Regions from separate parts of the Homo sapiens genome. Here region 1 is linked to region 2. The links come from fine-mapping of genetic effects on gene expression. A gene starts in region 2. The other region holds a variant in brackets. All regions are shown on one strand. Distances are from middle to middle. Region 1 has its middle 47 kb from the start of LINC01828. Region 2 holds the start of LINC01828 (long intergenic non-protein coding RNA 1828).

Region 1 (2,920 bases), 47 kb after region 2:
CACAGGACTATGAGATAGTAACTGTTGAAACCCTCATTTTACAGACAAGGAAAGTGACCTTTAGAGATATTACAATACTTACCCAAAGTTGCACAGCCAGCCTTCAGCCTAGAAACCACAAATAAGTGCTCCTGAGGGGCTCTTTACAATCATCTCTGCCTCGGGACAGGTTTGGAAACACTGGGAAAATAGGTTGTAGTTTGTTTAGCTGAAATCTGAAATAATAGGAGTTAAAGGAGAAAAGCAGTTGAAAGAGTCATGGAATTAGGAGATAAATGGAAAAGATGTAGACATTTGTGATCGGATTAGGTTTGCCAGATAAAATACAGGCATCCAGTGAAATTTGAATGTAAAATAAATGGTGAATGATATTTCAGAAAAAATGTGTCCTAAGTATTGCATGGGACTTATACTAAAGTATTATTTGTTGTTTATCTGAATTGAAATTTCACTGGGTGTCTTGATTTTCTTAAAACTGACAATCCTAGATGGGATGGATGATGACTAGTGGGTGGATAGTTGGGAGGATAGGGGAGGGATGGGATGAATAGGTAAAGCGTGTGTGTGTGTGTGTGTGTGTGTGTGTGTGTGTGTGTGTGTGTATCTTTCTTGGAGATAGACCAGCAGGGGAAGGCAGTGGCATATGATGAGAGTTTAGAGAAGATAGTCTAACCTAGAGAACAAAACATTTGCTGCCAAGGAGATGAGAACCTGAACATTTGCTTTGTGATTACAGCAATGACTCACTGTGTGACCTTTGATAAATTACAACTTCTTTGTTATACAGAGTTCTGTATTAATACAGGTGAGATAACAGTATCTACCTTATTTCCACAGAACATGAAAACAAGGTCACTTGAGCATTGCTTAAAATCCCAGGATTGAAGGAGGGGCAGGGGATTGTATTTTTGTTATATTATGTCCATGAGAAGGAAGAATCCAGAAAGCTCTGTTAAGCTTGGAAATCTTTTCTAATTTCTTTGGAAAATGCTCACTAAATAATGATTCCAACTCAGTGCTGGATGCACTGATTACAACCTACACTTTCTTTTCAAGCCTTAATTCACATACCTGGATAGATCCCTCGTTAGCTGAGTGCATTGCCCTCTAACTGAATCAGCAGAAATTAGCAAATTCAGACATCAGCTGTTTCTTTTCTGTGTTTAACAGGAAGCGTAATGCAACCTAGTTTTCCCAGGATTTATTTTTTTCACAAGTGCCAGAGCAGCACAACACCACAGGGATCTGAGCTGTGAGCATGTGCTGATAAAAGCTGGTTTCCTTTTGTGGTTGCCTTTTCATTGAATTGGCAAATAAATGGGCTTCTAATTATCTTTGGAGGTAGAAGTCTATTACATTTCACTAGGCCTGTGTATTTTGCTAATAAAATGAATACAACCCAAGAAACAAGAACAGTGGAGGGTGACAGGGTTAGCACTTTTACTGATACTCTCAGAGGCCTTGGAAGCATCCTCCTACAAGTAATCACATGGCCAGGGCCAAAGGAAAAGCACAGTGCCAGTGGATGAAAACAGGGGAGAGTCCTCACAGAGGGCACAAGTTGAGAAGATTACTCCAGGTGGCAAAGGAGGGTAGGAAAGGAGGTGAATTTCATGACCCCAGATTGTATACAGGGAACCCCAGACCACCGCCTAATGCAGGAGAACCTTATGATCAGTGGAATAAAAATGATGAAATAATTATGTCTTCTTGATCATTTGCAAAAGATTTCCTTAAATGATAGCTCATTTTGTATTTATTGCAATGATAAGGAAAGTGAAGTTCATAGAGGTGCA[A/G]TGATTTACTCTAATGTGTATATAAGGCAATATTCAAAATCAGGTCTACTGGAAGCAAGGCCAGGAATTCTTCCACCATGTCCGACAGTATTTGCCGTGTGGTGTAAATTAATGCCTGCCAAAATGTGACCTTCCTCCTCATACGTACAGCTGTTGAAATTCCCACAATAGTGGGAATTTCCACTTTGAGGGTTAGAGAAGGAAGGAAACAAAATTATATATTGTATAAACCACATTAGGTAGTGACAGAGAAAGAAAATAAGGACAAATTCTTTCTGGATATTTCATCCCAGTTGTCAAACTTGGAAAGCCAAATTGGGAAGCACAATTGATTGGTATTCATTCATTCATTCATTCAACAAGTGTAAATTAAGCTTCTATATGCCAGACACTGTGCAAGGCCTTGTATATTCAGGGGTGTGTGAAAGAGCCATGCCATGGTTGAGCAACACGGTGAGGAAAAAGAAGAAAGTGAAAGCATGAGTATCTCATCACTGATTGTGGAAAGTGCTGTGGAAGACAATGACAGGACTTGAAATTATCCCAACACATAGAAACGATAAACACTCGAGGTAATGGATATCGTAAATATCCTGACTTGATCATCACACATTCTATGCGTGTAACAAAATATCACATGTACCCCATGAATTGTACAAATATTATGTATCAATGAAAAACAAATTTAGAAAGGATAAAAAACAGGGATGGCTTCTCCAATTTAGAGCAGACCATTCTAAGGCAGTGATCTGAAAAATGAGAAGGAACGCTGCAGGGGAATACTGGGCAGAAAGCATATGAGGCCCTGATGGTGAGACAGCACCATTCCTTCCAGGAGCTGAAAGAAGGCCCCTGAGGTTGAAATGAGGTGGAGGGGAATGAGAGGGCGGTAAAGGGTGCAGAAACAGGCAGGAGCCTGAAGGACTGGCCTGGACTGTTCTGTGTGCCCAACAGCAACTGGCGGGCCTGGCCTCTGGATGGAAAGAAGACCTACCAGAAGGGCAGGAGACACCAAAAAGACTGAGGTGAACTTCAGCTTGCCCAGTTTTCAGGTCTGCAATTCCAGGTGCATGTGGTGGGTCTGCCACTTCCATAGGTAAGTTATTCCCCCATGTTAAATTCTG
Region 2 (2,920 bases):
GGGGGAAAACATATGATTTCCATTTTGGACATGGGATGTGTGAGATGGCTAACATGTGATAGTCTATTAGAAATATCTAGGAAACTCTTGGACTTATGAAGCTTAAACTTAGAAGAATGGAGATGAAAACACAGATTTGTAATTTATCTACATATGGAAAGATAAAGTTACACAAATAAAATAGTATATATGGCTTTCCACACAGGGAAGGGACTGTCCTACAAAGACTGAAGAATCCAGGCATGAAACATGATGGCAAAGGACCTTAATGTAACTGTATTTGGAGGGAGGACCTTTAAGGGGTAATTAAGGTTAAATGCAGCCATGAGGGTGGGATCCTGAGCCAATAGAATTAGTCTCTTATAAGAAACACCGGAGATATAACAGAGACAATTACCCAATTCTTTACCAAAGAGATTCTTCTGTTCTTACATGGGTAAAGGCCTGAAAGACTTCTGTGTTCTTTTAAACTAGGGTGGAAAGACTTGCAAGAAAAGTAGAAAAAGCCTGCCTTGAAAATTCTCCTACAGTTCCCAAATCTGTAGCTATAAATGAACTGCAAGATAGGGCAGACTTCATTCTGTAAACAAGAAATAGTTCTCAGACAAAAAAGACTTGCATTTGGCTCTAAAATGAACATTTATGGGGCTTGATAAATTACCTTTTTTTCTCCCTACTCCAAGATATCTGGCTTTCTCTGCTTTTACACGTTGCCTCTGATTAGGGCTTTACATTAAATGTATTTTTTTTTTTTTTTTTTTTGAGACGGAGTCTCGCTCTGTCCCCAGGCTGGAGTGCAGTGGCGCCATCTCGGCTCACGGCAAGCTCCGCCTCCAGGGTTCATGCCATTCTCCTGCCTCAGCCTCCCGAGTAGCTGGGACTACAGGCGCCTGCCACCGGGCCCAGCTAATCTTTTGTATTTTCAGTACAGACGGGATTTCACCGTGTTAGCCAGGAAGGTCTCAATCTCCTGACCTCGTGATCCACCCGCCTCGGCCTCCCAAAGTGCTGCAATTACAGGCATGAACCACCGCACCCGGCCCATTAAATGTCTTTTATACCCCACCTCACCCATGCTACCTTTCTTCAGCTGCTTTTTATGAAGATAGCTTGGAATGTGATTTTGTGCTTCTCTTCCTTCAAAGGAAGAAATGTAGATTTGTTTAGCCTGTTTGAAGCAGACACTAGATACATACTGATGGGCTTGTATTCATCTCCTCGAGCTACCAAAATGAAATACCATAGACTTAAACAACAGAAATTAATTTTCTCACAGTTCTGGAGGCTAGGAGTCCATGATCAAGGTCTGGCAGGGTTGGTCTCTGGTAAGGGCTGCCTTTCTGGTTTGTAGACTATGGCCTTCTTGCTGAGACCTCACATGGCCTTTCCTCTGTGGCTCTCAGAGCAGAGAGAGAAGGAGAGGGAGATGGGAAGAGGGGAGGGGAGGGGAGGGGGGGGGAGAGGAAGTCTCCTCTGGTGTTTCTTATAAGAGACTAATTCTATTGGCTCGGGATCCCACCCTCATGGCTGCATTTAACCTTAACTACCTCTTAAAGGTCCTACCTCCAAATACAGTTACATTAAGGGTTAAAGCTTCAACATATTAATTTTGGGTGAACACAGTTCAGCCAAGGTGAGCAAGAGCTCATCTTGCTGAGATAATTCAAGAGGCAGAAGAACCCAGCACCAAATGGCTGTGGGTCTTGAGTACCTGTTTAAGTTTTTAAGAGGATTATGGAGAGTCTCCTAAGAACTTAAAAGGCTGCTCGTTGACTTTATTCTTTTTTTTTTGATATTTTAGACAGTTGGTCTTTGTAAACACTTTAAAGTTACGACAATACCCCATTTTTTAAAGTTAATGTGAATAAACATTTATTATTTACCAACATAAATAATTAATTTGTACTGTAACTTTATGCAGGGCTGACTGTCTCTTAATCACAGTGAACCCTCAACAATAACATGGAACATCTGTAAGGAGTATTTACATTGAAAGAATGCAAGAACATCAGCTTAAACTATAAGATCATTGAAAACTGAGCATGTCAGAGGACAAAGAACTTTTTGAAAAGGCTCTTTGAGCTTATGGCTACTCCCAGGGAAGAGTCCTGCAAACCGTATAAGCACTCCCTGGACACCCTGTCTGGTGGGAAGGTGGAGGCCATTGGACCCTAGTGGGAGGCTCAAATAAGAGGGCTGATAATGGCCACAGCTGTAACCCTGGCCTTGACCCTTGAATTCTGTCCCAATGCACCTCTTCAGCATTTGTGATTAACCCCAAGAAGAGGAGGAAAGCACAAAAAGCTGAAAGATAGAAACAATTAAAGGAGTGCTGGAAGAGTCTGAAAGCACATGGCTCTCTCATTTGTGCTTTAACAATAAAGAATAAAGCCAGTGGGAAGAGAATTCTCTCCTCACCTTCACGCAGCAGCTGTGGGAGCAGACCCGGTGAGATTATACCAGCATGGCTGAGGTCATGAGAGAAAAATGGGAATGTAGCTGCAGCCACTAGCATCAGGCAGTGGCGGAGGTCAGGAGTAATGAGAAGAGAGGAGAGGAAAGCCCCAGGAAGCAGCTAAGGGAATTCTGAAGAGGTCTTTGAGAGTGCTTGGGAGAGATCCCAGGAACCCTTGGAGAAGAACTGAAATGATCGGAGTCATCAACATTTCCCCCAGTGGGCTATATGCCTGAGAGTGCTACAGTTACGGCACAGTGTGTTCAAGCTTCTTCCTTAGAGTGGTAAGGGCAGGGTTCTAAGGTGTGCAGTTGCTTGTAGATTTTTAGAAGGTCTGACTGCAATGTTGGTGCTAGTTCTAGTGCACGAATCTCAAGGAGGCAGGCCACATCCATTTAACTGTCTGTCTACTGTACCTAAAAAGCACACCACATAGGCACAACAGTACAATCACTGAAGAGAATC

Evidence for each region. PIP is the estimated chance that this variant, and not a neighbour inherited with it, causes the effect.
Region 1: its variant is fine-mapped to the expression of LINC01828 in pancreas (GTEx, PIP 0.98).

The regions. Positions count from the first base shown.
Region 1 is chr2:67,038,228-67,041,147 of GRCh38, reverse strand. No RefSeq gene overlaps it. Among named protein-coding and RNA genes, the nearest start is that of LINC01828, 47 kb to the left of the region's middle. The variant A/G (reference allele first, on the strand shown) is at 1,797.
Region 2 is chr2:67,084,910-67,087,829 of GRCh38, reverse strand. It overlaps LINC01828 (long intergenic non-protein coding RNA 1828), which reads right to left and starts at 1,384. Exons shown (of 5, transcript NR_110564.1): 1 at 1,275-1,384.